Linked DNA regions of Homo sapiens. The protein of the gene in region 7 interacts with the protein of the main gene of each other region in a pairwise test. Each region holds a gene or a part of one and is shown on either strand. Other genes may lie near its edges.

Evidence for each region.
Region 1: the proteins of ZNF490 (region 7) and VWC2 interact in binary tests that used the Homo sapiens proteins (3 or more experiments, as listed by UniProt).
Region 2: the proteins of ZNF490 (region 7) and CEP70 interact in binary tests that used the Homo sapiens proteins (3 or more experiments, as listed by UniProt).
Region 3: the proteins of ZNF490 (region 7) and GLRX3 interact in binary tests that used the Homo sapiens proteins (3 or more experiments, as listed by UniProt).
Region 4: the proteins of ZNF490 (region 7) and MTUS2 interact in binary tests that used the Homo sapiens proteins (3 or more experiments, as listed by UniProt).
Region 5: the proteins of ZNF490 (region 7) and ZRANB1 interact in binary tests that used the Homo sapiens proteins (3 or more experiments, as listed by UniProt).
Region 6: the proteins of ZNF490 (region 7) and NDEL1 interact in binary tests that used the Homo sapiens proteins (3 or more experiments, as listed by UniProt).

The regions. Positions count from the first base shown.
Region 1 is NC_000007.14:49,779,670-49,784,026, reverse strand, and holds part of VWC2 (brorin precursor), read right to left. Parts: intron 1-4,357. UniProt on the Homo sapiens protein: BMP antagonist which may play a role in neural development. Promotes cell adhesion.
Region 2 is NC_000003.12:138,496,565-138,500,629, forward strand, and holds part of CEP70 (centrosomal protein of 70 kDa), read right to left. Parts: intron 4,004-4,065; coding exon 3,835-4,003; intron 3,661-3,834; coding exon 3,546-3,660; coding exon of another isoform or gene 3,533-3,545; exon of another isoform or gene 3,320-3,532; intron 1,547-3,319; coding exon 1,467-1,546; coding exon of another isoform or gene 1,300-1,466; exon of another isoform or gene 772-1,299; intron 764-771; coding exon of another isoform or gene 699-763; exon of another isoform or gene 346-698; intron 1-345.
Region 3 is NC_000010.11:130,166,908-130,171,264, reverse strand, and holds part of GLRX3 (glutaredoxin-3), read right to left. Parts: intron 4,347-4,357; coding exon 4,285-4,346; intron 1,833-4,284; coding exon 1,775-1,832; intron 1-1,774. UniProt on the Homo sapiens protein: Together with BOLA2, acts as a cytosolic iron-sulfur (Fe-S) cluster assembly factor that facilitates [2Fe-2S] cluster insertion into a subset of cytosolic proteins.
Region 4 is NC_000013.11:29,026,128-29,030,484, reverse strand, and holds part of MTUS2 (microtubule-associated tumor suppressor candidate 2), read right to left. Parts: coding exon 3,582-4,357; intron 1-3,581. UniProt on the Homo sapiens protein: Binds microtubules. Together with MAPRE1 may target the microtubule depolymerase KIF2C to the plus-end of microtubules. May regulate the dynamics of microtubules at their growing distal tip.
Region 5 is NC_000010.11:124,979,858-124,984,214, reverse strand, and holds part of ZRANB1 (ubiquitin thioesterase ZRANB1), read right to left. Parts: intron 2,991-4,357; exon of another isoform or gene 2,887-2,990; intron 2,507-2,886; coding exon 2,386-2,506; intron 1,041-2,385; coding exon 911-1,040; intron 757-910; coding exon 527-756; intron 1-526. UniProt on the Homo sapiens protein: Ubiquitin thioesterase, which specifically hydrolyzes 'Lys-29'-linked and 'Lys-33'-linked diubiquitin. Also cleaves 'Lys-63'-linked chains, but with 40-fold less efficiency compared to 'Lys-29'-linked ones.
Region 6 is NC_000017.11:8,455,912-8,460,268, reverse strand, and holds part of NDEL1 (nuclear distribution protein nudE-like 1), read right to left. Parts: intron 261-4,357; coding exon 109-260; intron 1-108. UniProt on the Homo sapiens protein: Required for organization of the cellular microtubule array and microtubule anchoring at the centrosome. May regulate microtubule organization at least in part by targeting the microtubule severing protein KATNA1 to the centrosome.
Region 7 is NC_000019.10:12,604,022-12,608,378, reverse strand, and holds part of ZNF490 (zinc finger protein 490), read left to right. Parts: intron 1-4,357. UniProt on the Homo sapiens protein: May be involved in transcriptional regulation.

The DNA.
Region 1 (4,357 bases), on a different chromosome or scaffold from region 7:
CCAGGAAAGGAAGGAGAGGTCTCATGTTTAAAGCATCATCACTTTTGCTATTCTTGGATACTTGGAAATGTGCAGAGCCACCTGGCATTTTAATTTCTTTTCTTTTTTTTCTTTATTTTATTTTATTATTATTATTTTTTTTAGAGACAGGGTCTCACTATGTTGCACAGGCTGGTCTTAAACTCCTGGGCTCAAGTGATCCTCCCAGCTCGGCCTCCCGAACTGCCGGGATTATAGGCATGAGCCACTGTGCCTGGCCATGGAGTTTTAATTTTCAAGCTCTATGCTTTTCCACAGGCCTAAGGCTTCTGAGAGAACTCACAGGGCCCTCGGCAGAGGCCTGACATCATCCTTTTCCACAGATTTGAAAGGCAGTCTATGTCCTGGCCGCACCCCAGTGCCCGACAGAAATAGAATGAGAAGTATGATCCAGCTGGCAGGATCTCAGCCTTGGAACAGACAAGCAGTAAGAAGGATTTCCAGCTACGTGGTCAGAAAAGTACCATGAAGGATGGTCACAGGGTAGGTAGGCCTGGGTGGGAAGCCATATCCTTCATGCAAACTCACAGTTGTTACATTTGATACACTCTTTTCTTTTCCCTAGAACATCTGGCCCAGGATTCCTCTGTCATTTAAAAACAAGCCATCAACAACAGTGGAGTCTATTAATAATAATAGAGTGGCTTCTACTGTGTGCCCCCTTGACCCCCTGACCCAAGCTCTCACAGTGCCTCACACACCACACTACTGCTGCCTGTCTCCTGGAGGGGGCCATTTACTTCCCGTCACATCTCTAGGATGCAGCCCAGGGCCTCACACACATGGTGTCCTAAATATTTTCAAATAAATGTAAGAATAATGTTTCCGTTGGGACTTATCAGATTTAGAGATATCATCTGAGGAGGTAATGTTTTATGGAAAAGCAGCTCCATGGAGCCAGTCCCTAATGATTAGAGGTTCTACAAGAGTCCTTCTAGAGACCAAAATCTGGACCAGGGCGTGGCTACCTCCCCCTGAGCTGCACACTCTGCAGAACTTGTCTAAATATCCACATGAACTTTGTTCAGAGCTTTACAGGTTCAAATTGCTTTCACATACATCTTATTTACTTCTTATAATGGGAGAGGAATGCAGAATACTATCCACTTTTTTTTCTTTTCTTTTCTGTTTTTTAAGATGGGGTCTTATGCTGTTGTCCAGGCTGGAATGCAGTGGCCCAATCATGACTCACTGCAACCTCAAATTCTTGGGCTCAAGCCATTCTCCTGCCTCTGCCTCTCAAGTAGCTGGGTCTACAGGTGAGCACACCAACATGCCTGGCCTTTTTTTTTTTTTTCAATTTGTTGTAGAGATGTGGCCTCACTATGTTGTCTAGACTGGGCTTGAACTCCTGGACTCAAGTCATCTTCCCACCTCAGTCTCCCAAAGTGCTGGGATTACAGGGATGAGTCACCACACCAGGCCCCATTATCTTTTTTTTTTTTAACCACTAGAAAACAAGGCTCTGAAAGTTGTCCAGGGAAGCACTGGATAAAACAGAACCCCATTCACCCCACCGTTCAGATGATAAGTACCCTGTCCTCAAAGTCCCAGAAGCTGATTCTCCACCAAAACTGAAGAGGAAAGGACTGGAGAGCATGGGACCTGCTTTCCTAAACCTCCTCATGATATCAACTGCCTGTATGATTTTGGAGGGGGCACTAATTTTCTAAGGTGAATTTTCACTGCCTATGAACAAGAGGCTTTTCAAAGTCATGTATTTATTTACAGGAGCATGGGTGAATCACACATCTGCAAGGGGGGTGTGGTCAGCTGGAAAACAAATGCCCTCCCAAAGGGGCAGCCCTGCCCAGCTCTGACAGATGGCTGCCATCTGGGAATCATTTCATTTTTGTAAGAATTAGGCAATCTGGGAATTTATATGAACCTCCCGCTTGTCAAATACAGGCACTAGTAAACAAATGTTTTATATGCCATGAGCCAAATAGAATACCTCCTAGAACCAGATCTTCCTCTTGGGCCACCTGTTGCCCCACATGGGTCTGATAATCCCTGGAGTCCTACCTGCCTCTTGGGATCTAGTCTTCTTTTCACTGCCCCCTGGACTCATTCCCCCTTGCTCTCAGGGAAATCCTGGGACTAAGTGCTTTTAGTCCCATTACGACTCAAGACTTCATCCTTTGAAGGACACAGACATTATTTTGTTCATCAGATGGCCAAGTCAAATATGACAAATCCATGTAAATAAATGCTTAGCCAAGTGGATCAAGCATTTATTGGACATACATATAAGCAAGGCACTCTGGGCTTGTATAACTTTTCCTTTTTCCGGGTACCTGAAATGTTCTCCACCACACGCAAAATGCCACTTCATCACCATATGGTCACGAAGACACTATGCACGATCTTCAGAGTCCAACACGCTAGGATTCAAATCCTGTCTTCACCATTTACTAGCTCTATGACCTTGATCAAGCTATTTAACTTTTTCGGACCTTAGTTTTCTCTCCTTTAAAAATAAAGAAAATACCACCAACTCAGTCTGTTGTGTAAATTACTCCAGAAAAGCCAATATATAAAAAATATTGGCACTAGATAAATATTGATTCCCTTCTGCCCACTGTAAAAGATTATGGTGTTAATTCTATCATACTTCACATCAGATATTGTATGGAACATGCAAATAAGCAGTTTTTAAAGCTGTGTTTCCCCCACCTGAGTTAGGAACACATCTAAAGAGTCTAGATATGGCATATGACTCCCTCTTTAAAAAAAAAAGTCACTGTTTAAATGGCTTTAGACACAAGGGTAGAAAATGAGAAGTAGAGAATTTACAAAATCTTACTCAGAACCAAAACAAACTCAGAGACAGCAACAGTACATGCATTAGCCTGACTTGCAGAAAAGAACACAGATTGACTCATTTTACTTAGTGAAGGTGGATAATAATAGCATTGTTTTCAGTTAAGTAACATCAGCCAAAAGAATATAAATACCATTAGACTGAAAAGTGTGAATAACCGTAGCTTTCTCTTTGCTGGCACTTTCTCATAATTGATATAGAGATCTATTTAGATGAAGGTTTTGATTCCAAATTTCATGTTCAAATTTTTTTAATTGATAAAAACCTAGAAATAAGATTTTGCAGTGGGGTTAATGGCAAGTCAGATACGGAGGCAGTCAGAGAGAATTTGGTTTAACTCAGTGGTCCCAAATCATTTCACCTCCAAGTACCCCTTCCTGTTATCTCTCTCTCAACAGTTCTTATGCTTTGAAAGACAGTCTAGTAAGCTTCACTTATTAATAATTCATCTTCCCTTTTTCTTCAAAGACTTATACAATTGCCAATCAGAGCTCCTGATCGGCTACGATAACCAGTGTTGACACACTTTGCTGATATCAATCCTACCAAAAGCAAAGAAATGTGAAGATTTAGTTATCCTGTATGGCCCTATTTCAGAGTCACAAAAATTCCATTAGGTTTTATAAAACATGAAATAAGCTTGCAAACTCCCCTTTCCACCATCACAGTCCTCCAGGAGACCAAGATTCCCATGATGAAAACAACTTGTTTTGTTGAGCAAAATAGAATGATTTTTTTTCAATTAACACATTTCAAATGTGATTTGCTTCTGAACAAATCATGTGGCCACTGAGGCAAAATTTACAACTGCTCAATACAGCCCCTCTCCCTACCCTTAGTCACCTTTTAGTTTTCTGTGACACAAGGATCCATTCACATAAGTAATACAGGAACTCCTAAAGTAGCTCTCAGAATGCAATAGACACAGAATCAGAATGGTCAAGTTGAGCCCCTCAGTTAATGTTCATTGGCATACACTTCATCACCACTCACTCCGTGCCTTCGTCATAAGCACTGTTTTCCCATCATGTGTGCTGATGCATCCTCACACACCCCACTGTTACTACCTCGTTAGGTCTGTTTTAGGAAGTCAATTTTGGTCATTGACACTATGTTTTGGGCTAACCTGTGTGCTTCTACAATTCAAATTTTGAAGTCCTCACGCCAGTAGCTAAGAATATGACTGTCTGGAGACAGGTCTTTAACGAGGTAATTAAGTTAAAATGAAGTCAGGCCCCAATCCAATATGAGTGTGTCCTTATAAGAAGAGGAGATGTGGACACAGACAGATGCAGAGGGAACACCATGAGAAAACACAGGAAGAAGATGGACATCTGCAAGCCAAGGAGAGAGGCCTCGGAAGAAACCAGCCCTGCTGACACCTTGATCTTGGACTTCCAGATTACTTGGAAATGTGGAAGTCTGAAAATCTTGGATTTCCAGATTTATTCCAAGACAACAAATTTCTGTTTAAATTACCCAGTCTGTGTTACT
Region 2 (4,065 bases), on a different chromosome or scaffold from region 7:
CCGATATGGGAATTTCCTCAGTCAATCACACCATTTACATGAGAAAAAGAATGGATTGTTTTTTTACTCACTAAAGGTACTCTCCATGTCTGTTACTCAGTATGCCACCCTGCACCTACATGCTTAGTGACACCTATTAATTAAAAAAACTGTCATGTTTGCCAGATTTAACTTTCCCAATGTTAATGTTTAACACCAGAACTTCAACTTTGACCAAATTACAGAATTCATCTCCAGAGAAACCTGGCTTTCTGAAGCAAATGATCTTTATGAACCATGCTGAGTGTCATAATATCTGAAAGGAAGTTTCTATAGAAGCATTCTGAAATAAGTGTTACCAGCACACCCTATTAAAATATGTTTATTAATGTGCCAAATATTTATGAATGATGAGAACATCACTGCTTAAGTTAATAGCAATCCCAAAGCAAGAATCATATTATTCTATGAAACCAGGCTCTTCAGGATATCAGACAACACACTTATACAGTTTCATACCTCATCTCAAGTTTAACTTTCAAATTACATTTTCACTTGCTGTGATCTTTTTAAACATGAGGACAAGCCTAAAGCAAGCTCACTCATTGTCTCCCTTGCTTCCCCACTGCACATAAGACTGGTCACAAAACTTCCTTTATGTTCAGTAGGCTATATATTCTAATTAGATACTTCTTTCACTTATTCTTCTTATCAAGTTTTCATTGACTCATTCCCTTATTTTCATACCAAGCTTCATCTCCTCTTCTAAAAGCAAAGAGCCATTCTTTAAAAAAAAAAAAAAATCTTTCAAATGAGCTATACAGAAAAAATTCACTGGTGAATACATCACTTTAAAACTTTAAAAATCATTCTTAATAGTAAGATAAATAATTTTATAGCCATATGTAATTATATTTAAACTAGATAAGGTCTCTATTTTGCCTTATGAGTCCTAAGCAAATTTTTTCCTTTTAGGAGACACTACTACTAATGAAGCCCTCAATCTGACCCTCAGTATAAGTGTAATATTTCATCTTTTCCTTTCCACAGATATTTATGACTTTATGTTACTTCATATAACCAGAGAGGAAATATTATTTGTATATTTAAAAAATTTTGTAGATAGGTGGTATCTTAAGAAAAAAAAAGGAGGGAGGAAGGACCTTCTAAGATCATAAATCCTAAGAATATTTCTCATTAGACAATGACAGAGCCAGGGTTAAACTAGGCATGGACAGAATGATGCCATCTCTCATGATAAGGTCCTCCAACAAAGGTAGTTCCTATTGCTGTTAAGGGTCTGTGTTTCTGTTCTATGGACTAATCCAAACAAACTCTAACTGCTTGTAAGGAATGTGTTTCCAGAACTGTTAGTGGTTTCCAACCACTAGGTAAAAATACTAATCCAGTGACCAAGGAACACCCTTTTCTTAAATGCACTGACATTTTAAGACTCAAAATTTCACCATCACCACCAGAGATCTTACCTAAGATTTCAAGTAGATCATTAGTAAATGCCTGAAATGCTGGGAAAAATTCCTCGTGTTCTTCCAATTTGTAGATAATGCTGTTTAAAAAATGCACAATTTAAACCTGATTTCTAACTTTGGGTTCTTGCATCTGATTGCAAACAGAACATTTTCAAAATAGAAACTATATTGCTAATTTAAATATAAACTTAATGATCATTTACTACAGTCTTTTCTTTCTGAGCTTTTTGTTAATCCAATATCACTTTTCTTAAAAAAGCATTTCAATATCAATGTAAAATTTGTTAAATTCATATATAACATTCTTTTTTTTTTTTTTTTTGAGACAGAGTCTTGCTCTGTCACCCAGACTGGAGTGCAGTGGCGCTGTCTCGGCTCACTGCAAGCTCCGCCTCCCGGGTTCACGCCATTCTCCTGCCTCAGCCTCTCGAGTAGCCTCCTGTAGTGCCTGCCACTACGCCCGACTAATTTTTTGTATTTTTAGTAGAGACGGGGTTTCACCGTGTTAGCCAGGATGGTCTCAATCTCCTGACCTCGTGATCCGCCCACCTCGGCCTCCCAAAGTGCTGGGATTACAGGCGTGAGCTACCACGCCCAGCCAATATACAACATTCTTAACATGGCAAATTTCCCATTAAGCTCAAGGCTTCTTAGATCATGCTTTTACAGCATTTTCTAAAAATAATTGGCTTTTACACCCAGTATCCTATTAAACATTAAGAAAAAATATCAGGCTGGGCACAGTGGCTCATGCCTGTAATCCCAGCACTTTGGAGGCCAAGGCAGGAGGATCACTTGAGGTCAGGAGTTCGAGACTAGCCTGGCCAACATGGTGAAACCCCACGTCTACTAAAGTACAAAAATTAGCTGGGTGTGGTAGCGCATGCCTGTAACCCCAGCCACTCAGGAGGCTGAGGCATGAGAATTGCTTGAACCTGGGAGGCGGAGGTTGCAGTGAGCTGAGACTGAGCCACTGCACTCCAGCCTGGGCAACAGAGTGAGACTCTGTCTCAAAAAAAAAAGAAAAGAAAAAAAGAAAAAAAATCAGTAGTCAGTAAAACTGTGGGAAGGAAGAAATAGGCCAATAGCAAGATATATGTTCCTTTTAAAAGCACCAAGTGTCAGATTATGTAAGGGTTCTTCTAGGAAAACTTGCAAAACATATGGTTTATGTGGTATATATTGTGTGTTTCCCTTCACATATGCTGTAATATAAAATTGGGGGTCAGGTGTGGGGAAAGTTGCTTTAACTATAGCTACAATGTCTTGATATTTTCTAAAAATACCAGCTTTTATGTTATAGATGCCTAGTCTTTTAAAAACTCCTCAACATTTATCTTCTAATCAAATAAATATACTATTAATGATTATTCAGTGGTCTATGGTAGTGTCCTAAAAATAGAACTTATTGATATAATCAGAACTTACATGATGTTGCTAACAAGGTTTGAATTTCTCCATATATAATATTTCCTGAAAACAGGCTTATGCTGAAGAGTACCTGACCTTCTTTATAGGCCTTACAATCTATTTTTATCTTGAAAATATTTGGCATTTCCTCCATCCCTAAGGGTTTGAGATTATCTTAGATTGTCAAGTTACTTAAAAGATGCTATTCCAAGGCTGGGCATGGTAGCTCACACCTGTAATCCCAGCACTTTGGGAGGCCAAGGCAGGCGGATCACTTGAGCCCAGGAATTTGAGACTGGTCTGGGCAACATGGTGCAACCTTGTCTCTATCTCTCTCTCTACACACACACACACACACACACAAATTAGCTGGGCGTGGTGGCGTGTGCTTACAGTCACACACACACACAAAAGATGCTATTCCAAACAGGGAAGGTAAATAAGTTTTGAAAGTCTTTAATTTCACCCCTCCAGGAACTCTCGATAATACTTATTTTAATTTTTATTGTTTAGAGACAGGGTCTCACTGCCTTGCTCAGACTGGACTTAAACTCCTGGGTTCAAGTGATCCTCCCACATCAGCCTCCCAAGTAGCTGGGACTACAGGCGTGTGCCACCACACCCAGCCATTCTGGATGATACTTTGTAAACTTTTAAAACAAATACCTCTGGAGGTCTTCAGGTCCTAATACCTGCATAACCTGCTCATTCACATCTTCATTAATCAGCCTACAGAGTTTTCCAACAGTGCTTACTAGCACACACAATGAGGATGAACTATCTGCAAAAGAGAAATAAAAGGATATTTTAACAGAGAATTTCCAAAATTACATACATCAAACATTTTATGCTTCAGTTATCCTCAATTTTTCACTTAAACATTTTTTAATCTACTTTTTGTTAATTTATTAAAAATTCTTAAATGGGGGCCCAAAATGACAAATTAGGTCATCACCTAATTCTAAGAGTTCTTGGAGGTTTCTCACAGCATTGTTCATTTCTCCAAGCCTAGTATAAACTTCATTCATTCGGGGATAGACTCCATTTAAAGAAGGCACATCAAATAACTTTTGGAAGTGAGAAACAATAGCTTGCAAAGTTTGAAAGTGTGGCATATTGCTGTCCTGTCCAAAAAAGAGGTAAAAAAGAAAGAGTTCATTATCTTAAAATAATCCCAAATAAAAAC
Region 3 (4,357 bases), on a different chromosome or scaffold from region 7:
TTGTTTAATTCACTCATGCAAAATGATCTTAACTCACTTAGCCTTTTTGCAATGATTATGACAATTATTTTCCCATTTCCAACTGGATTCTGACTCCCATTTTTCTTTTTATTTTATTTATTTATTTATTTATTTATTTATTTTTTGAGACAGAGTCTCACTCTGTCCCCAGGCTGGAGTGTGATCTCGGCTCACTGCAATGTCCACCTCCCAGGTTCAAGCGATTCTCCTGCCTCAGCCTCCCGAGTAGCTGGGACTATAGGCATGCGCCACCACGCCCAGCAAACTTTTTGTATTTTTAGTAAAGATGGGGTTTCACCATGTTAGCCAGGATGGTCTCGATCTCTTGACCTCGGACCTGCCTTGGCCTCCCAAAGTGCTGGGATTACAGGCATGAGCTACCGCATCCAGCCTCATTTATTTTTACATTACAGAATACTAACACTTTTTTGAGTTTATGAAAATCTTAAGCTTTTTTCATGCCACAGGACTCCAAATTCCAGCAATCTTGTGGAAAAGATATGGTACCATGTCAACATTTTAATAGCCCCAATAACATTGTTTCCAAAATGTATTAATACTTTCTAGGTTTCCAGAAAAAAATAGTTTTGAGAATAAATATCCACTTAAACCATTACCGAGAATAAGAAAAAATGTCACTTTATCATTACTAGGAATTATTAACTTCCTCTATTGTTTCAATACACTGAACCAAAATCAAAGAATTTAGGCCCTAACCTAATGTTTCCAACATGCTGAAATTTATATTAACATTTTCTTTGTTACTGTTACTTTCATTATTACCTAATTATATTAACCAGTTATGTTAACTAATTAGCTTCATTATACTAGTTATGTTAACTTATACACTAGTTATGGCAACCAGAGTCTGCCCTGTGAAGTATTGTGTCCCTTTCCCAATGAGCAAAGTGGTTCTCCATGTCACTTGCCCGGTGCATCTTGCTAACAAGTGAGGCAGTTTCTTTATTCCAACAGCCTCACCTTTCAAAACTTTGGTTTCTTTATCTCTAAAACAGGCCAAAGTCTGTCCAACCCTGCCTACTTCAACAACTGATTGAGAATTAAGTAGAGGTTCAATTGCTATGAAAATTACAAAATATGATATAAATGTGTATGGCTGGTTTCTGGAAATTACCACTCTGATCTCAATCTGAAAGAAAATTAGTTCTGCTCAAACTATCGGTGGAAGTAATCTATCAAACTTGATATTCAAAATGACGCATAATCAATATGTACTTACATCAAAAAGCTGTAAGAACCATCCCATTAAAAATGAGAATTGCTGACCATTTCACTCATTCATCAAACACACAGAGCACACCTGCTACAGCCAGGGTTTGCTCCTCCACTGTCACAAAAGGACGATCTAGGGGTGCAAACCCAAGCACGACCAGGTTCCCTGCATTCAGGAAGTCCACTGACTCAGCTGCACACTTCAGCAGTCCACAAACTCAAACAAAGGATAATGACATAACAACTCATACAACCAGTAAAGTGTTAACAGTGTTGACCACATTAGCTGACAAAGTTTGGCAGCAGAAAGAAATGCACCCCACTGAGATGTTGATGATAAAGTCAAGCAAAATGTAGATTACTTTGTTTGATCTCCGTAAGCACCAATTAAGGCGTGGATAACTTCCTGATATCGCTACAGCTTCATTAGCTAAAGCTAGGAAAAAGATTTAACTGTCCCCTTGTTGCAGATGTTAACATCAAAAGAAATTACAAATAAAACCATTTTTGAGTTCTTTACCTGTTTGTTTCCTTTCATAAAGAGCATCACAGAAGCTTTATTTGTCAGCACTTTGAGCCTAAAGAGAGAAAATTGATATAAAACGGCTCAGCTCAATTATGCAACACCACTTTTCCTCCGCTTCGTGAGTAACATGCATATTTGAGGGATGGCAGGATGACAGTTCACAGCTTTGAGTGGTATTAAACAAGCAAATGCGTTGACATTTTCCTTGATTTCATTCTCTCCCTAAGCCACTGTAAAACACAATATGGCTTTTAAGGCAACGAATGTTCCTTCAAGTTGCAATTTAAGCCCATCAACTCACAGTAATAAAAAAATAATAATAATAACCAATTCAGTAAGGAATTGTTCAATAAGGGGCCTATATATTAAGCCCATCCAAAACTTCCAGAACTAGATCTTGTGTGCACCATCTTCCATCATGATGCTGCATACCACTGTACACGTGTAAAGCTCACAAGGTCGGACTGCAGGGTGACAGCGTTAAACCTCAGAACATCAACTAATGCCAGATACTAAAATCAAATTCTCTCATCTTAACATGTTTTATATTTTATATAGTCTTTCAAACATCATAATCTAACATGCTGTCAGGAATTTTAATTATCTGTATACAGCCACAAGTTTAGTCACAAATCTCAAGAAAAGTCAGTGCTGGGACAACGGGTCACTAAAGAACCTAAGCCCCATGGGGTCACGCCACCATGTTCTCCCAATTCACAGCTCAAAAATCTCCTTAGAGGTTGGGCGCGGTGGCTCACGCCTGTAATCCCAGCACTTTGGGAGGCTGAGGCAGGTGGATCACGAGGTCAGGAGATCAAGACCATCCTGGCAAAACACGGTGAAACCCCGTCTCCACTAAAAAGTACAAAAGAATTAGCCGGACGTGGTGGCGGACGCCTGTGGTCACGGCTACCCGGGAGGCTGAGGCAGGAGAATGGTGTGAACCCGGGAGGCGGAGCTTGCAGTGAGCCAAGATAGCACCACTGCACTCCAGCCTGGGCTACAGAGCCAGAGTCCGTCTCAAAAAAAAATAATAATAAATATCCTTATAAACTCATCCCAAATGAAATGCATCAATCACGCACAAAGCTGTATCACTTACATTGCCAACCGAGTGGGATTAGCTCAAGTTCAGAAAAATATGAACAGATATAGGAATACAATGCTGACCCTGACAACCCAACTAACTAACCCAGTCACCTGGATACAGGGAACCACAGCTCACAAAGTACTGCCAAAATACATGTCACAAGTCCATGAACTCCACTTCCTACACTCTGCTCACTCGGAGCCCTTTAAATTATTACTCCAAATATGCTGAATTTTCCTTCCGACATAATTCTAGCCCGTTACCCTTTGGTGTCTGCAAGCACAGATTTAGAAGCAGCACATTAGGAAACGGAGGTCTGATGGAGACAAGGCCATTAACAGCGGCAAGTGCACTCAGCAGAGAAGGAAAATCAACTGAAGAGCAAATACAAGCATATAAAAAACACAGCTGTCTTTGGAGACCACACAGCCTCCATGGGCCAAGGGCATCACCAGGCTACAGGCAAGAACCACACATGAAGACGCCCAGAGTCAAAAAAGGGATGAGGAGTATCATTTTCTCATGAAGAACACAGGAAATGGTACCAACCACAGGACAGAATGCGGCACTCAAAGATCAGCCTGACATACGTGGATTGGACGCTGTTTATAGAAATTATTAATTAACGACAGACAAATGAGGTATTTATTATTATTAAACACTTTTAGAAATTCTCAAGATGTTACATGGCAAAAAAAAATTACCAAAGGAAGGTTTATCTTACAATCTCCAGCCCCAACTATGAATGGCTGATTGCTGATATAATAAATTCCTTTTTAAAGTTCTATATTAATTTTACTGCAATAAAAATCCCATTAAGTTGCCTTACACACCAAAGTCCAACATTTCTGTAAGAGAACGTCTCTAAAAGCCAAGTGAGATCCTTGATAAAACAAATACATGTTTCACACCTCCAAAATCTGTTCATGTAAGTTCTCGTGGTCTAGAAAGGCCATGAGAAGTGCTCAAAGCTTGTTGCGAGGTGATGAGTTTTTCACACTCACCACTTGTCACTCAGTGCTCTGGCGTTGGGGCAGCACCCGCAGCAGTCACCAAGGCTGCACCCAGTAAAACACGAGTGTGCTGAGGTTACGCCAAGGAGCAGTGACAAAACAACTGGACCCTGGCTCTGAAATGCAGAGAGGTAAGCAAAACTTGGTTGTTCCACAGAAACAATGACATTTCTATAAAAGCAAAGCAGATCCTCCACATGATCACTAAGTTGGTGCTAAAATTTCTCCAATACAAATTAGATTTGCCAAAGTTTGAATGGCTAATGTGACTAAACAATTATGACGTCTGGCATACCAAATCCTTGATTTCTACACAGAAAGAGCAATGCAAAACCTGAGGACTTTAAAATATTTTTAATATATTAAATGATAGGCTATTTGAAACCTTCTAAAACACTTACCTTTCCTCTAATTTGGGAGCTTTGGGACAAATTGTATCTAGTTCTTCAGATGCTTCTAGCTCCTAAAATAAGC
Region 4 (4,357 bases), on a different chromosome or scaffold from region 7:
ACCACAGAAATGAGCCCAGCGCAACCTGAGAAGAGGCCTGGGTCTCGTTCTGATGATGGCAGAAAATGGTCCCCAGATACAGGGAGGGAAACTGACATTTCAAACGAACTTGTAAAGTCGAGGCCCAAAAACAAATAAATTCTTTGAAGAAGACTTTGGGATGCTCGAGGTGCGAGGCCATGATGCTCTCTCCACACCAGTGGGGTCTCTCTGAACCCCTCAGAACCGCCAAAGCCACACAATGTCCATACAATCCCATTTCCTTGAGTCTTGACGTGGTGCCTAGATAATGAAGTAGAGAAAATAGTTTGGGGAAAACTATGCATGTAATATATAAACTATTCTTGGAGGAAGCAGAACAACACAGAAAAGAAATATACACGAAAATATAGAAGGGCACAAAGAAAGAATTACAGACAATGTGGGGTTTGGGCCTACATATCCAAATCAATTTCCCTCATGAGTTTGTTTTTATAGAGAAAAATCTAGGCTCTGGCTATGGTTTGGATATGGTTGGCTTGTCTGTGCCAACTCTTATGTTGAAATGTGATCTCCAATGTTGGAGGTGGGGTCTAGTGGGAGGTGTGTGGGCCATGGGGGCAGATGCCTCATGAATGGCTTGGTGCCCTCCTTTTGGTAATGAGCAAGTTCTTGCTCTATTAGTTCCCATGAGAGCTGGTCCTTAAAGAGAGGCCTGGCACCTCCTCCACTCCCCTCTTGCTCATCTCTCACCACGTGATCAATGCACACGTGGTTCCCCTTCTTCTTCCCCCTTGAGTGGAAGCAGCCTGAGGCCTCACCATAGGCAGATGCTGGTGCCATGCTTCCTCTCCAGCCTGCAGAACCATGAGCCAAATAAACCTCTTTTCCTTATAATTTACCCAGCCTCAGGTATTCTTTCATAGCAACACAAATGGACTGACAGGTCTCTTCATGGAACCTCTGCAGTGATTCCCTGCCTTATAGAAGAGCAAAGCTTCAGAGCCTGACCCTGAGCCTCAGAGGCCCAGGTGGATGAATGTTTAGAAATTTGAAAATGACTCACTATAACTAAACTCAGAGACTGACGTAAAAATCCAGAAGGGCAATTTGTTCACTTTTAATTGGAGACCACTGCCTAAAGCCAGACTCAAGTGTCCTCTAGCCAGAACACGTTCTCATTGCAGGGCACAGAGTAAGAAGCCACTTATAAACAAGATGCCATGCAGCCCCGCACAGCAAGACAAACCCCTGCCAAGCTGACTGGACCCCTGAATTCTCCAGCCAGAATCCTCTCTCTAGAGATGTGAGGTAGGAAGTCCGTTATAATCAGAGGCCTGTTGGCAGGCCCAGAGTCAGAACACAGGGAGCAAGCTGTGTGATTTGGTTGCTAAGGACCTGCGGCAAGGCAGCACAGCTGGTCGGCTTGTTGGGGCACCTCGTCAGTGATTGCCTAAGTCAATGTCTGCTGCCGAGAATGGATTCAACTTTGTCTTTGTGCTAGATATGACAACTTCTGTTGTGATTGATGCATTCTTTAAATATGCCAATATATCTAACCAAGCTAGAGTCCAAATTTGGACTCAATCATCCTATCTCTAGAAACCCTTGGTACACTTTTGTTTAGTTCCAACACATATGGAGTTCATGATTCAGTTATCACTCAACATTTTTTGAGCACATACTTATAAGAAGCACCATTCTAAATTCTGGGAACACGGGGAACAAAATATTGAAAACAATCCCTTCCCTCATGGAGTTTACATTATAGTCAATTCAGGAAAACTAAAAAAGTATTTATGGCAGGTGGAGGTAGGTGCTAGGAAGAAATAAATCAGAGAAAAGGGATTCAGAGAGAAGATGGGTGGCCTTCCCAAGGAGATAACATTGGAACACAGACCTAAAGGGAGTGAGGGAGAGAGCCATCTGGATAACTGGGAGAACATTCCAAGCAGAGGGAGGTGCAAAGGTCCTGAAGCAGCAGAGTGAGAAAGGGAGAGTGGAAGGAGAGGAGGGCAGGTAGCTGACGGACCCCCAGTGAGCACATCCCATCCTAAAGGCAGAGCCATCCTACAGGCTCCAGCTTGTGTTCCAAGCAACCTGGGCAGCCCTGGAAGGTGTTAGAGACAGGATGATCTCATCCTGCCCTTGTTTTTGAGACTGAGTCGCGCTCTGTTGCCAGGCTGAAGTGCAGTGGCGTGGTCTCAGCTCACTGCAACCTCCACATCCTGGGTTCGAGCAATTCTCCTGCCTCAGCCTCCCCAGTTCCTGGGACTACAGGCACATGCCACCACACCCAGCTAGTTTTTGTATTTTTAGTAGAGACGGGGTTTCACCATGTTGGCCAGGATGGTCTCGATCTCCTGACCTTGTGATCTGCCCATCTCGGCTTCCCAAATGCTGGGATTACAGGTGTGAGCCGCTGTCCTTGGCTCCTGCCTTACTTTTAACTGATCACTCAGCTGTCATGAAGAGACTCCTTCAGGAGACAAATCTTAGTTCTGAGGTCTCGAAGGATGACTCACCATAGCTAAAAAGGACAGCACAGTGCAGTCTGAAACTGCACAGGCCTGAGTGAGACTCTCAGAGCTCTCCTTCCTTTGTGGTGGGTGACTTAAAGCTCTCTGTCTGTCTCTGTATCTATACGGTGATAAAAACTGCAATACCGGCTGGGCGCGGTGGCTCACGCCTGTAATCCCAGCACTTTGGGAGGCCGAGGTAGGCGGATCACGAGGTCAGGAGATCAAGACCACGGTGAAACCCCATCTCTACTAAAAATACAAAAAAGTAGCCAGGCGCGGTGGCGGGCGCCTGTAGTCCCAGGTACTAGGGAAGCTGAGGCAGGAGGATGGCGTGAACCCAGAAAGTGGAGTTTCCAGTGAGCCGAGATCGCGCCACTGCACTCAAGCCTGGGCGACAGAGCGAGACTTCATCTCAAAAACAAAGAAAAAGCCAAAAAAAACATAAACAAACAAAAAACTGCAATACCAACCCTCAGGGAATTACTGCAAGGATTAGTGAAGATTAACAAAGATCAAACGCTGTATTATATGGGCCCAGTGTAGAGCTGGCCCTCAATTATATGTTAGTTGTAATTATTACTTTTATTTTAAAGAAAGAGTCCATGCCTAACACACCGTTTTCTGCTCATTTGCTGTTCTTCACGCATGCGAATAAGAGATACTCCCAGGTAGAAAATACTCCCCATTGAGGAATGAGTCTGATCTATTTGAAGAACACAGTAATTTTGCATTCTTTCTTCCTTTAACCTGGCTTATATTATATTATATTCACTTATTTAAACATGGAAGCCTATTTAAGGCATACTCATCTAATTTCATATGAATTATAGCAAGTGAAATTTAAATGGGTCTCCTTAGATATTGGGTACATCTTATTAAGATAATCAGACTCTTCTAGTTAAAAATGGTCATTTCTCTAGACAATCTCCTCTAGTCAAAAACTCCATTTCTTCACAAGTGTATCCATGAAAATCTGTAATTCACTTAAAGAGGACATTTTACTTTCATAACTCATTGAAAATATGTCACAGATATTGGGACAGTCAACTTATAGACCATATCATAATGACATTCTCTTACCTCCTGCAAAAACTTTTCACTCATTTGACTGAAAGGATGTCCCGGGGGCTTGATTCCAGACACCATCAATCCGGAACTGAAGACCCTTGGCTTCTGCAGGTCTGGCTTGAATTTCTCATAGAGGTTGGCAGATGGCTTCAGGTCACCACCTGCTGCCTTCTCTTCGTGGGGAAGAGGCATGGTACATGTGGGCGGGGCATATGGAAGCCCCACTGGAACCAGCGAGGCGTCCACCTGGCCCAGGGCCTGGGGATTCCTCCTGATGTAGGTGATGATCTTGGGCCTCACATGCTTGGGCTTGGGCATAATGATGGGCTTAGTTTCTGTCCTCTCCTCTGTTTTTTCAACCTGATAGTTCTCCATTCCCTCCTGCGAGGAAGGTGTGTCCTTGGAATGTGTGAAGACAGGCTTGGGGATCCCACTGGGGCAAGTGTTCTTGTCAGGCACTTTGGGGGACGTGTTCAACAAGCGTGCACTATCAGTAGGGGGTGGAACTACCAAGGGGGACCCCGCATCCATACCGAACACGCTAACATCCTGAAAACTGCTACTGGGTGTTGTAGGCTGGTAGGTCATGTTCACAGTTGTCTCTGGGTGGAGGGGTGCTGGAATATTGAGAACTGAATCTGCTCTTGCTGAGGTGCTTTCAATCTTATCTGCATTCTCTAGAAGGTTCCTGTTTTCAGCAACAGATGTGGTGACCTCTTTGCTTTCCCGTGCTTCTGAGCGGCCACTTTGAGGGTCCAGGGGCTCAGGCACCTCCGTCTTGTTCTCTC
Region 5 (4,357 bases), on a different chromosome or scaffold from region 7:
CCTGCTCCTGCCATGCACCAGACCCCAAATGTTCCTCTTCTGGGTAAACTGGCCATTGGTTTACCACGTTATCCAGAGTAAAACCCAAAGCTTTAAAAAGCCTTCAATGAACTCCCCCCCATCCCTATCCTCTCTGACCTCTTCTCCCTTCCTCCCTCCCCCTGCCGCCTACCCTCTCTCTTTCCCTGTTGCTTCCCCTCTTAAACCACACTGGCCTTGCAATTCTTGGAACTCTGCTTTCAGATAAAAACTCACTTCTCATTCCCTAAAATGCCATATTTAAATCACAAACCTCATCTTTACTTTTTCTTCTTAAAACCCATCACCACCTTAAGTTCCTTGATGTGTCCCCATACAGCAGTTTTGAAAAGGTAAATTTCAAAGTATAGCTAGTACCTTCAGCAATTACTACCATCACATTCAGAAATTAAGTGATAGTGCAGATAAAACCACACCTGAAAGGCACTTCAGGCTGTTTCTGGTACAAGGTCACTACTAGAAATAGTTCATAGGAGAAACTGCTTACCTCCTGAGCAGAAAGGAAGTGCACATGGAGTAGCTTCCTTTCACTGTCAACCAGAGGCAAAAATGTGATGGTGACATCATCATCGGTATTGAGATTAGCACCAGCACCTCGGTTGCCATAGCCATCATTTTCCATGGCAACCAAAGCAGAGAAGTGGCCCCTCGTATAACCCAGAGCAATCGGACTTTTCCAACAAAAACTCTGTTCCCACAACAAAGGCAGATAAACACCTGGAAAGAGAGGGAAGAAAATCCCAACAGTCACAGGAAGAAAGAGCCACTCCCTCACTGCCCTTGTTCACATTCCCCTGTCCACTGCTCCTTCCTGACATCTGAGCCATTCCGTTCAAAGAAACTTGTAAAACGTTCCTGAATAATGGCTTACCTTGAAACCGAGTATATCCTAAAGTTTCTCCCCGGAAACTCTTGTAATATTTTACTCCATAAACTATAATTGGTCGTCTAAGAATATGTGCCAGTACAAAAATGTGCGTCTGCTCCAAGCTTGCTCCAGGCTGTACGAAACAAAACAAAAACTTAAAACATTTATTACCACTCCTGGAAAACTGATGTGTAAAAAACAATACTACCTCCCCTTCAGTATACTATCGCAGTTGGTTTTTAAGAAAGAAAAGATTGTCAAAGCAGCATTTGATTCCTCAAATAATAAATCCAGTAAAACTGTAAAAGAAATCTATAAAGGCTACATGCAAATATCATTTACCATCCAAACTCACAAATTATACAGATGTGCATACATACTTTGAAATATCCCTCACTACTAACTCTCCAACCTCAGGAACCAGAGATTCAGATAACTAAGGATGCTTTATTATCACATTCTCGTTAAGTTACTGTGAAAGCACTACCTACAACAAAGTCCTCCTGAAATAAATAAGTGAGCCTGTTTCATGCAAATGTAAATGGCAGTATCAACTAACTCGTGAATACTAATATTAAATGGGTCCATCATCGAGCTACAATGCATGGTGTGAGATACATGTCTCATGTAAATCAACCACTATGAATCCTGCCCAAATTGCCCAAAGATCGGGTACCTCCTTCTCTAAGTTCAAATGAACCATGGTGCTTTCTGCAAAAAAAAAGGAGTAGTTGTATATATATTTGTACTTTACAGTTTGGTATACTGAAGTGCTTCACAAAATAAAGCATGAAACCAAGAGTCTAAGGGACAACCCTACACAGTTCTGTGTCACAAGCAGCCTTCATTAATAAAAAGACGTTAGCAAACTTGCAAAACTTCATTCCCACATTAATCAGAAATCATTCCTATTGATGGTAATTAGTTCAGAGTAAGCTAAACTACCCTTTTCCTTTGCCTACATGACACAGGTATTGCCTCACCACAGGGAGCATTATGAAGATTGACAACTGGTTCCTCAGGGCCTGACAGATCAGCAACAGCAATGCAAGTACCTACACCAGTAATCTTAAGTGTCCCCAGAGACAGAACAGAGCTCACCTGGATAGGTACCATAGGCATCAAGCCTATGCTGCAGGAACGGAGAGCAATCCCAAGACTATCTACTGTATGTAACCGTCATAGCACAGCTTTCACTTTTTGATGTTTTTAATCATTCGATATAAAAACACGTTACTCTTCCTGCTCTGCAGTGAGGACTTGCGATGCTAATCTATACTTGCGATGCTCATCTATACTTGCGATGCTATTTATTTGATACACAGCAGTCATCACTAGAACCCAAGTTGACTGATGATACCACGTCAAGCATTCTTTTCTTTGACCACATTGCCCCCAACATGGTTTGCTCAAATAAACCAGTTTAGACTACATGCTTACTTTTCTCATAGAAGCAACAAGACTTGAAGCATCCTCACCTGACTAGCAAGAGAGAGTATAAATGCCCAGTCTTCTTGCCACTGTTCTTCTCTCAAGGAAAAATGTAAACCAAAGCTCTGAGAATACCATGATTCCCAATCTTTCCAGCGTGTGTAAAACCTAAAAAAGCAGGATAGTAAAAAAATAAATAAATAGTCTTCTATAAATAAAACATTTAAAGTTCTGATCATTTTTATTTAATGCAGTCTTTAAGCAGTCTGTGAAACAATTAATAATTTTATTTTGTCTGGTTGGTAATGTATTTTTCTAATGAAAAATGCCTCCCTCTTCCACTAGCAGATACCTTGTAACATCCTTTAACATCTTTAGTCAGAATTTGATTTACCGACAACCAAATTTTCAAACTTCAAACGCTAATGATGAGACTGGTTATTTTCCACTGTCCACAATTAGTTTACAAAAAAAAAAAAAAAAAGTCATCTGAAATGTTGTATACAAAGACACTACATTTCTCTATCAATGTATAGTACACCACCTACTTGATCACTTGTATAAACAACAGGTGGGAAATATTCCGTGTGTTCATAGTATCAAGATCATCTCCCTGAGATTTCTTTCCATAAATAATTTCTCTGATGATCACCTAATAATTCAAAAGCAACCAAAAAGAAACCCACTGCAATGACAGAAAACATTCCTTCTTTATGCTTAACACTGAATTACTGAAAACACATCGATTCTTTGTCTATCAAATATAAAAATTCAGAAATAATTATGCTCAAAATTATGGTTCACTGTCTTATAAAAACAAGCCAACTAAGACCTCTAAAATGCAGACAGACATTTAATCTGTTTATAACATCACATTTATCTTCTATACATCTGAATTCTAGGTAAAAGAAACAAAAGACCAATCTGTTCCTGTTGTTAAAAAGTTTCAGCATATTAAAGTTAAACGTGAACACGTGTGGTAACTCACACCTGTAATTCTAGCACTTTGGGAAGCTGAAGGAGGAGGATTGCCTGAGGTCCAGAATTCAAAACAACCTGGCCAACATAGTGAGACCCCGGCTATATTGCGGGGGGAAAAAAAAAGTTAAATGGGTGGTGTCACAAGTAACTTTACAGTAATTTAATGAAGGGCTCCTTAGAGAGTAAATATATTTCCTAAAGAAATTAAAATATAATGTTCCAGAGGTTTAACTCAGTTTAAAACATTTTTCATACTCCACGTAACTGAGGATGTTTAATCATAATTCCAAATGTTTTAAAATTAAAATATGTATATTCTTTTATAATCGCTAAGATAAATGTGTCTTGAAAATTTTGGCAACAGTGATGAAATACATTGTTTTGAAAAGTTCAAGGAGAAATATCAGAGAAATTGTCAATACTGAAAGTTATATGCAGTTAGAAATTTCTTGGTGCCTAAAATAACTTTATAAATAAGACAGCTAAGCCAGCCAGAAATTCAATGGTGATTGCACTCAAAACTCTTCAAAGACCACTGAAGAAGGGAGGTTCAATGAAATATACTTTAAAACTAAACATGTTAAAATGTTCATCCTCACCACCCCAAGACCTAAACTCTGATACTACCAGAGTCTCCATAAGAACAGACAAGCAAACCAAATCCAGCAATATATGACCAAATGGTACAGGAATACCAGTTTGGTTTAACATTCAAAACTCAATTCCATGTTCATGGATTGGAAGGCTCAATATTGTCAAGCTGGCAATACCACCATCACCCCAATTAAATCTACAGATTCAATGCAATCCCAATCATAATCCCAGCTGTCTTTTTTACAAAAATCGATAAAGCTGTATCCTAAAATGTATATGGAAATCCAAAGGACTCAAAATAGTCAAAACAATGTTGAAAAAGAAATACAAAGTCAAATGACTTACAGTCCAGATTTCAAAATGTATTACAAAGATATGATCATCCAGACAGTCTGGTAATGACATAACGATAGCCCAGTGGAAAAATAAATCAATAGAAAAATA
Region 6 (4,357 bases), on a different chromosome or scaffold from region 7:
GGAAGGTTTGTCAAGCTGAGTTTACCTTTTCAAGGCTTCATTATGCTCACTTACTAACCTGTCACTTTACTACTCAAAAAATTATCACTTAAAACATTCAGGACTTACCCTTTGTCGAAGAAAGATGTATGCCCTGATCGAGAGAACTTTGTGCCATTGCCATTCAGCACCCCACAGTTAACATTCCCTGAAATATAGGATTTTCGTGATGCTTGGTCCTTTGCAAAATTCCTGCAAGCTGCTAATTTGGATTCTAAAGCCTACAAAAAAGAAGGAGGAATGATATGGTTGTCAAAACAGTAGCTGCACATAAAAATTTGCATTTCAAACCATTTCTATTTCAAGCCTCAAAACTTACTCATCTCAGTTGATAATGGTGGTTAGTTCAGCCATAATCAATCAACTTTCTAATAAAAAGGGGGAATACTTATGCTCCCTTTCTAATGACCTCAGAATATTTTGTTTCCTCCTCTTAGCGTTACTGAAGGAAATACATATAATCTTCCCCTTACAACTAAAAAAAGTGTGGTACAGGAGGTGGAACAGCAGATCCCAGGTCTCTTGACCCTATCCATTGCTCGTTTCTAAGCTGTAGACTGTTAGTTGGTGTTGGGGGGCAGGGTGTGTTTTGGGAGCAAGCACTATTAAAAAACCCAAAAATATCACTTGAGAATTTTTTTTACGGCAGCCAATTCTTTCTCTAGGTTCTTCATTTTTTCTACTGCATGAGAATGGATGAGAACATTTACAACACTTTACATGAAATTAAAAGCTATTTTATTTCTGACAGCACTCTGTAAAATGTTTAACTGATACCCTTTGTCTGTAATTAAATAATTCACCCGCAAATGACACTGGCCTTTTAGCATTTACCTCTAAATTGGGCACCCTTGTTTTGCACCTGTCACCACAACACCTGGCAAGCACAGGGCTCTACCAACGCAGATGACATGGAGAGATCAGGCGTTTCTCATGTATTTCCACACACTCACACTTCACCAGCTGTCTCTTTCCCATAAACACTTTGCCCAAATCAAACCCCTCCTTCTCCGAAAAGAAAAATACTATCCATGGCAAAATATATATATACACAATTCATGTCTATTATCCATGACAGTAAAGGACTGGGAATGCACAGCTAAATTAAATCCACAGGTAACATATACTTCACTTTGAGAATCCATTTGGACCTCCTCCCCCCACATTTCAATAACAGCTATTCAGAAACAGCAACAATGGTTGGGTGCAGTGGCTCATTCCTGTAATCCCAGCACTTTAGGAGGCCAAGGCAGGTGGATCACTTGAGGCCATGAGTTCGAGACCAGCCTGGCCAAGATGGTAAAACCCTGTCTCTACTAAAGAAAAAATAAAAAAATTAGCTGGGTGTGGTGGCATGCACCTGTAATCCCAGCTACGCAGGAGGCTAAGGCACAAGAATCACTGGAACCCAGGAAGCAGAGATTGCTGTGAGCCTTGATAGCACCACTGCACTACAGCCTGGGCGACAGAGTGAGACTCTGTCTCAAAAAAAAGAAACAGCAACAAAAACAGACAAACTTTTTTCTTCTCCTTCTTTCCTATGACAAAAGTACAATGACCTACTAAAATGACAACAGAAAAAAGGAAGAGAGGTAATGACCTTGTAAAACAAACTCTGAATAAGCATAATTCAGCAATAATTCAGCAGCTTATTAAAGCTACACACACACACACACACACAGTAGAAATTGAGAGCCATTCAATTCCTATATTCAAGACACGCATTCATTCAAATCCATATTGAGTATCTATCACACGGCAGGCACAACTTATGTCTGAGACATCAGTGAGACATCCAAGCACGAGCACCAGGTCTTTTGAGGGGGGAAAGGGTGGTCTAGAGATTAAGATTTGAAAGACATCCACACCCAGGGGTGGATGAAACTATGGCTGTGATTAAGATCAGAAAATCAAGGACAGAACTCTGAGTAAAACCAATATCGAAAGGGTGAGCAGATGAAGACCCAACAAGATGACTAAGAGGAATGGAAAGAAAGTTGGGAGCAGCCATGAAACAGCATCAGAGAAGGAGAGAAAAGAGGGCATTAAAAAAAAAAAACGGTCAGTGTTGAATGCTTCAAGTAAAATTAGGACAGAACGGCATCCACAGGATTTGACAGCACTGAGATCACCAGTGAGCAGTTTTAGCGGCATAAGCAGGGGACAGAGCCCAGGCTAAAGTGTCTGGGGCGTGTGCATGCAGTCAAAATGCTAACAATAAATGGGGACACGCTTTCAAGAAGCTTTAAAGTATGTAATATGTACCACATAAGTATTACATATATTTATATGGATAACATGTAATACAGAAATATCAAAGTATACCTGTATAACACATAACATATAATGTGTAATACATAAACATTATACATAAATATTAACGCATATATAGTAAAAGGCTGAAATACAGGAGAAATAAAGATTTAAGGGTTGGAAGAAATGAGATCCAAAGCACAGATGGACAAAATTAGCCACGGACAGGAATTTGCACTTTTACCACTGGGACAAAAAGGAGGAATGGCTACAAATAGAGGTAATAATAGGAGAGTAATAACAAAAGATGAGAAAAGAAATCAAAGAAGCTTAAAACAAATGGCCTTGATTTTCTCTGTGAAGGCATGCAAGAGTGGAGAAGGGCTTCCAGTTCAAGTCAGTGGACAAAGTCGTGTAAAGAGGCATAAATGAAATATTCATAAAAGCCAACAAGGGCTGGTGGACACCAGCAGACCCAAAGTGTTGATGACTTTTGGAGGTCGTTATTTTGATAACTCTTAGAAGACGGATTGTCAGCTGAATGTGTAAACCATACAAGGATGCCAAATTAAACTTTCATGCACCACTTCTGAATAAATTAAAGTACTAAAGCAAAACAAACAAGGAACAAAGACAGACAACAACGTGGGGTGAGGAACAGGCAGAACTAACCCAAGAGTAAAATGGAGAGAAATTCGAGGGCGACAACAATGCAGCAGCCCTCGAAGCCCATCAGGGCATCCCACAAAGAGTGTGAAGAAGAAGCTAGAAGATCCGAGAGCAAAGAAAGGTGTAGGTTTCTTCTACTCAAAAGAAAGAAGGGGAAACAGAAATGCTAGGAAAAGAAAGCAGCGTACAGTCAGCTACAATACGAAATATTTAAAAACCCAGTATGATTTTGAGTAAATTACAGTTAAAGAACAAAATTCTCAAAACACATTTGTTGAATGGCACAAATATAAAGACCCATCTGAAAGTCCAGCATCTCCTCTGTGATTACACAGTAAATAACACATATATGTGCATTGTTACAAATGCTGTTTGACTACTTTTCCATTTTTAGAACCAACCAACAGAGAGCTCACACAGCTAGTAGAGGGCTCAGAAAAGGAAAGCGGAGTGGGAGTGTGGTGGGGAAGAAAGGGAGAGAACAGCGAGTTAAGATATAGTCTAATACTGGCCAGACATGGTGGCTCATGCCTGTAATCCCAGCACTTTGGCAGGCCAAGGCAGGCAGATCACCTGAAGTCAGGCGTTCAAGACCAGCATGGCCAACATGGTGAAACCCCGTCTCTACTAAAAATACAAAAATTAGCCAGGTGTGGTGGCATGTGCCTGTAATCCCAGCTACTCAGGAGGCTGATGCAGGAGAATCGCTTGAACCTGGGAGGCAGAGGTTGCAGTGAGCTGAGATCGTGCCGCTGCACTCCAGCCTTGGCAACAAAGCGAGACTCCGTTCTCAAAAAAAAAAAAAAAAAAAAAAAGATATAACCTAATACATTCAGAAACAAAAGTTCAAGAATGTTAAAGTAATTTTTTTAAAAGAACAAAAAATAAAAATAAAAATATCTTTGCTTAAAGTTGAGTAAATCAAGATAAACAGAAAAATAAGCACATGATTTCAAGTTATAAAGACAAATACTCCAACATAGAGGATTTTAAAATGGTTATCTTGGGAGTGAAGAAAGATTACTCTATGTACTGTAGGAACGACCTGTGCACTTTACTTTGTATTTTAACCTTAAAAATGCAGGTTTAATCTGATGGTTAGAAAATAACCCCTATGATGAGCTGAAACAGGCAAACATAGGACCTGTGTCTTGGCCTCCCATATCTGCTTTAGATAAAGTATAATGCAATTTCTACATTTTTTAGAAAGTGTCACACACGAAAATAAGTGAAGGGGGTAGTAGATAGTGGGAAATGGCAATGGTTGATTACTGAAAGGAGAGGTAAAACTCACTAAGGGAAATAGTAATGGGAGCTAATGCTAGAAATGCTGACTTGATAGTGGCATAAATCCACATGGTTCTGCAACTGTTTCCAGTAATTCAGACTGCAGATC
Region 7 (4,357 bases):
GCTTCAACCTGAGGCTGCGGTGACCTGTGATGGTGCCACTGCACTCTAGCCTGGGCAACAGAGCGAGACCCTGTCTCAAAAAAACACAAAAACCACAAATTTGGAGTCATGTTTACTTGTTTGCATAGTTTGGACAAAACGATCACTGCAGTTCTGACCTTCAAGGTAAACATGCAAGAGACGGATAAGGCACGGGTTAGTGTCGGGGGTACCTAATTTTGTCATTGCTATCAGTTCCCTGATCTAAGTGACTCTGTAATCCCAACACTTTGGGATGCTGAAGTGGGAGGAATTTCATGGGGAATGACTACAGCCTTCATGCATGTGGATACATAATCTGAGCCTGAATATGTCATCTTCACATAAAACCACGATTTGGTTATTGACTGTTCTGTGAATCCTGGGTTCCTTGGCTCATGGGAGCTTCAATGTGGCTTTTCTGGCCAGGAACTTGCCTGACATTTTCAATAAGCCAATCCTTAAGTTCAGCATGCTGGTATTTTTCAGTGTCTGGGTCACCGTCCTTCCTGTCTACCAAAACCCGAAATGGGGAAGCTATCAATCCTGGCCTCCACTGATTTGCTGCTGCTTCTCTGTCTGCAGATGCTATGCTGTTCTTGTTTGTTCCTTTTTTTTTTTTTTGAGACAGGGATCTTGCTGTGTTGCCCAGGCTGGTCTCAAGCTCCTGGCTTCAAGCAATTCTCCTGCCTCAACCTCCCAAAGTGCAGGGATTACAGGTGTGAGTCACTATGCCTGGCCTGAGTTTTCAGTTTTTGACAGTGCTCAGTATATGTGGTGGCACACATTTGGACTTTAATACTGAGAAGTTCCATTATTATTACTGTTATTATATTGTATTACTATTACTATTATGTTCTGTCACCCAGGCTGGAGTGCAGTGGCAAGATCACAGCTCACTGTAGACTCAACTTCACAGGCTCCCTAGTAGCTGGGACTAGTAGCTGGAACTAGGACTAGGTGTGCGCCACCACGCTTGGCTAATTTTAAAAAAATTCTTTTTTTAGCCAGGTGTGGTTGTGCACATCTGTAATCCCAGCTATTTGGGAGGCTGAGGCAGGAGAATTGCTTGAACCCAGAAGGTGGAGGTTGCAGTGAGCCGAGATCATGCCACTGCACTCTAGCCTGGGTGACAGAGTGAGACTCCACCTCAAAAAAAAAAAAAAATTTAAATTTTTTAAATTTTAGAGACAGGGTCCTGCTATGTTGCCCAGGCTGATCTTGAACTCCTGGACTCAAGTGATCCTCCCACATCAGCCTCCCAGTGTTGGGATGGTAGGCGTGAGCTACCACACCTGGCCAATTTCATTATTACTTATGAGCCATATGAGTTTAGACAAGACTTTGTGCTCTCCATACTTAACTTTTTTCATTTGCAAGATGGGAGGTATGATTGGGTGGGGCTAATCAAATGAAATACTAATGATTATGAAATCACATTAGTCACCACAGTGATGTGCAAACATAAATTATTGAAATATTGAATAAAAATGGGATTTTATTTGTTCTTTAGTAAAACACAAAGCTGTTCATTTTTTTTCTTTCCTAACATGTGCTGGAAATCTACCATATGGAAATGATACTTGTGAATGGTCATGGACTTTTAGGCCTTTGCTGATCATTAAAATAAAAATCTTCCAGTGATTCCTTTTATAAAAGGACATCAAAGCCTGGGCAACAGAGTGAAATCCTGTCTCTATAAAAATAAAAAAAATTGGCCAGGTGCAGTGGCTCACACCTGTAATCCTAGCACTTTGGGAGGCTGAGGTGGGTAAATCACTTGAGGTCAGGAGTTCAAGACCAGCCTGGCCAACATGGCGAAACCGCATCTCTACTAAAATACAAAAAATTAGCGGGGCATGGTGGTGCACACCTGTAGTCCCAGCTACTCAGCAGGCTGAGGCAGAAGAATTGCTTGAACTCAGGAGGCAGAGGTTGCAGTGAGCTGAGATCATGCCACTGCACTCTAGCCTGGGCAACAGATAGAGACCCTGTCTCAAAAAAAAAAAAAAAAAAAGAATTACCCAGGGTGGTGGCATGTGCCTGTAGTCCCATAGCAGAGATCCCTTGAGTCCAAGAGTTGGAGGCTACAATGACCTATGATTGTGCCACTGCACTCCAGCTTGGGCAATAGAGTGAGTCTCTGTCTCTAAAATGAAAAAAAAAAAAAATCCTATTTTAGGCCAGGCGCGGTGGCTCATGCCTGTAATCCCTGCACTTTGGGAGGCCGAGGTGGGTGGATCACCTGAGGTCGGGAGTTTGAGACCAGCCTGACCAACATGGAGAAACCCTGTTTCTACTAAAAATACAAAATTAGCGGGACGTGGTGGCACATGCCTGTAATCCCAGCTACTTGGGAGGCTGAGGCAGGATAATTGCTTGAACCCGGGAGGTGGAGGTTGCGGTGAGCCAAGATCATTGCACGCCAGCCTGGGCAACAAGAGCAAAACTCTGTCTCAAAAAAAAAAATTAAATTAAAAAAAAATCCTATTCGAGGGTCTCAAATACACTTTTCTTAAAGGGATAGGAAAACCATTAACAAAATATTTAACAGAATACTTCACTTCTGGTCCACCAATAACCACTTCTCAAGCAGACACCAGCTGGGTGTGCTATATAATTCAATTTAATTGTGACAGTATCTACCTGGAGACGGAGTCCAATACCAAAAGCTAACGGCTCACAAGAATGCCCCTCACTGCAAATGTCAGTTGTAAGTCCCAGGATGTGACCTATGCTTCTGACCAACAAGCTGTAAATCAGGGTTTTCATGACCCACTCTTTGGGTTTGATTAATTTGCTGTAGCAGCCTACAGAACTCACAGAAACACTTTACTTACATTCACCCATTTATTACAAAGTGTTTTTTTTTTTTTTAATAGAGCAGGGTTTCACTCTGTCTCCCAGGCTGGAGTGCAGTGGCAGGATCATAGCTCATTGCAGCCTTCAACTCTTGGGATCAAGCGATCCTCCCTCATCAGCCCCGCAAGTAGCTAGGAATATAGGCATGTGCCACCACACTCAACTAATTATTTATTTTTTGTAAAGTTAGGGTCTCGCTCTGTTGTCCAGGCTAGTCTCAACCTCCAGGTCTCAAGAGATCCTCCCACCTCGCTCCTCTCAAAGCACTGAGATTATAGGAGTGAGTCACTGTGCCTAGTCTTACAAAGGATATTTTATTATTTATTTATTTGTTTACTCTTTATTTTGAGACAGGGTCTCACTCTGTTGCCAGGCTGGAGTGTAGCAGCACGATCTTGGCTCACTGCAACCTCCATCTCCAGGGTTCAAATGATTCTCGTGTTTCAGCCTCCCGAGTAGCTGGAATGACAGGCATCCTCCACCACGCCCAGCTATTTTTGTATTTTTAGTAGAGAAGGGGTTTCACCATGTTGGCCAGGCTGGTCTCGAACTCCTGACCTCAAGTGATCCATCTGCCTTGGCCTCCCAAAGTGCTGGCATTACAGGTGTGAACCACTGCACCCAGCCTACAAAGGATATTTTATTTTATTTATTATTATTATTATTTTTTTTTTGAGACGGAGTTTTGCTCTTGTCGCCCAGGCTGGAGTGCAATGGCGCGATCTCAGCTCACTGCAACCTCTGCCTCCCAGGTTCAAGCAATTCTCCTGCCTCAGCTTCCCAAGTAGCTGGGATTACAGGCGCCCACCACCACGCCTGGCTAATTTTTTTTTTTTTGAGATAGAGTCTCACTCTTTTGCCCAGGCTGGAGTGCAGTGGCACAATCTTGGCTCACTGCAGCCTCTGCCTACCAGGGTCAAGTGATTCTCCTACCTCAGTCTCTCAAGTAGCTGGATTACAGGCCCATGCCACCATGCCCAGCTAATTTTTTTTCTGTGTGTCTATGTTTTTAGTAGAGGCAGGGTTTCACCATGCTGGCCAGGCTGGTCTCGAACTCCTGACCTCATGATCCGCCCACCTTGTCCTCCCAAAGTGCTGGGATTATAGGTGTGAGCCACTGCACCTGGCCTAATTTTTGTATTTTAAGTAGAGATGGGGTTTCATCATGTTGGTCAAGCTGGTCTTGAACTCCTGACCTCAAGTGATCCACCTGCCTCAGCCTCCCAAAGTGCTGGGATTACAGGCGTGAGCCACCACACCTGGCCCTACAAAGGATATTTTAAATGATACGAATGAACAGCCAGATGAAGAGATACCTCCAGGCATATGGTTATGTTCTTATTTACCAACCAGAAGGCTCTCTGAGCCGTGTTTTTGGGTTTTTATGGTGGCTTTATTATGGTGACATGATTAATCACATCATTCACTATGGGTGATCAACTCAACCTTCAGTTTTCTCTTCCCTCCCTGGAGGTGG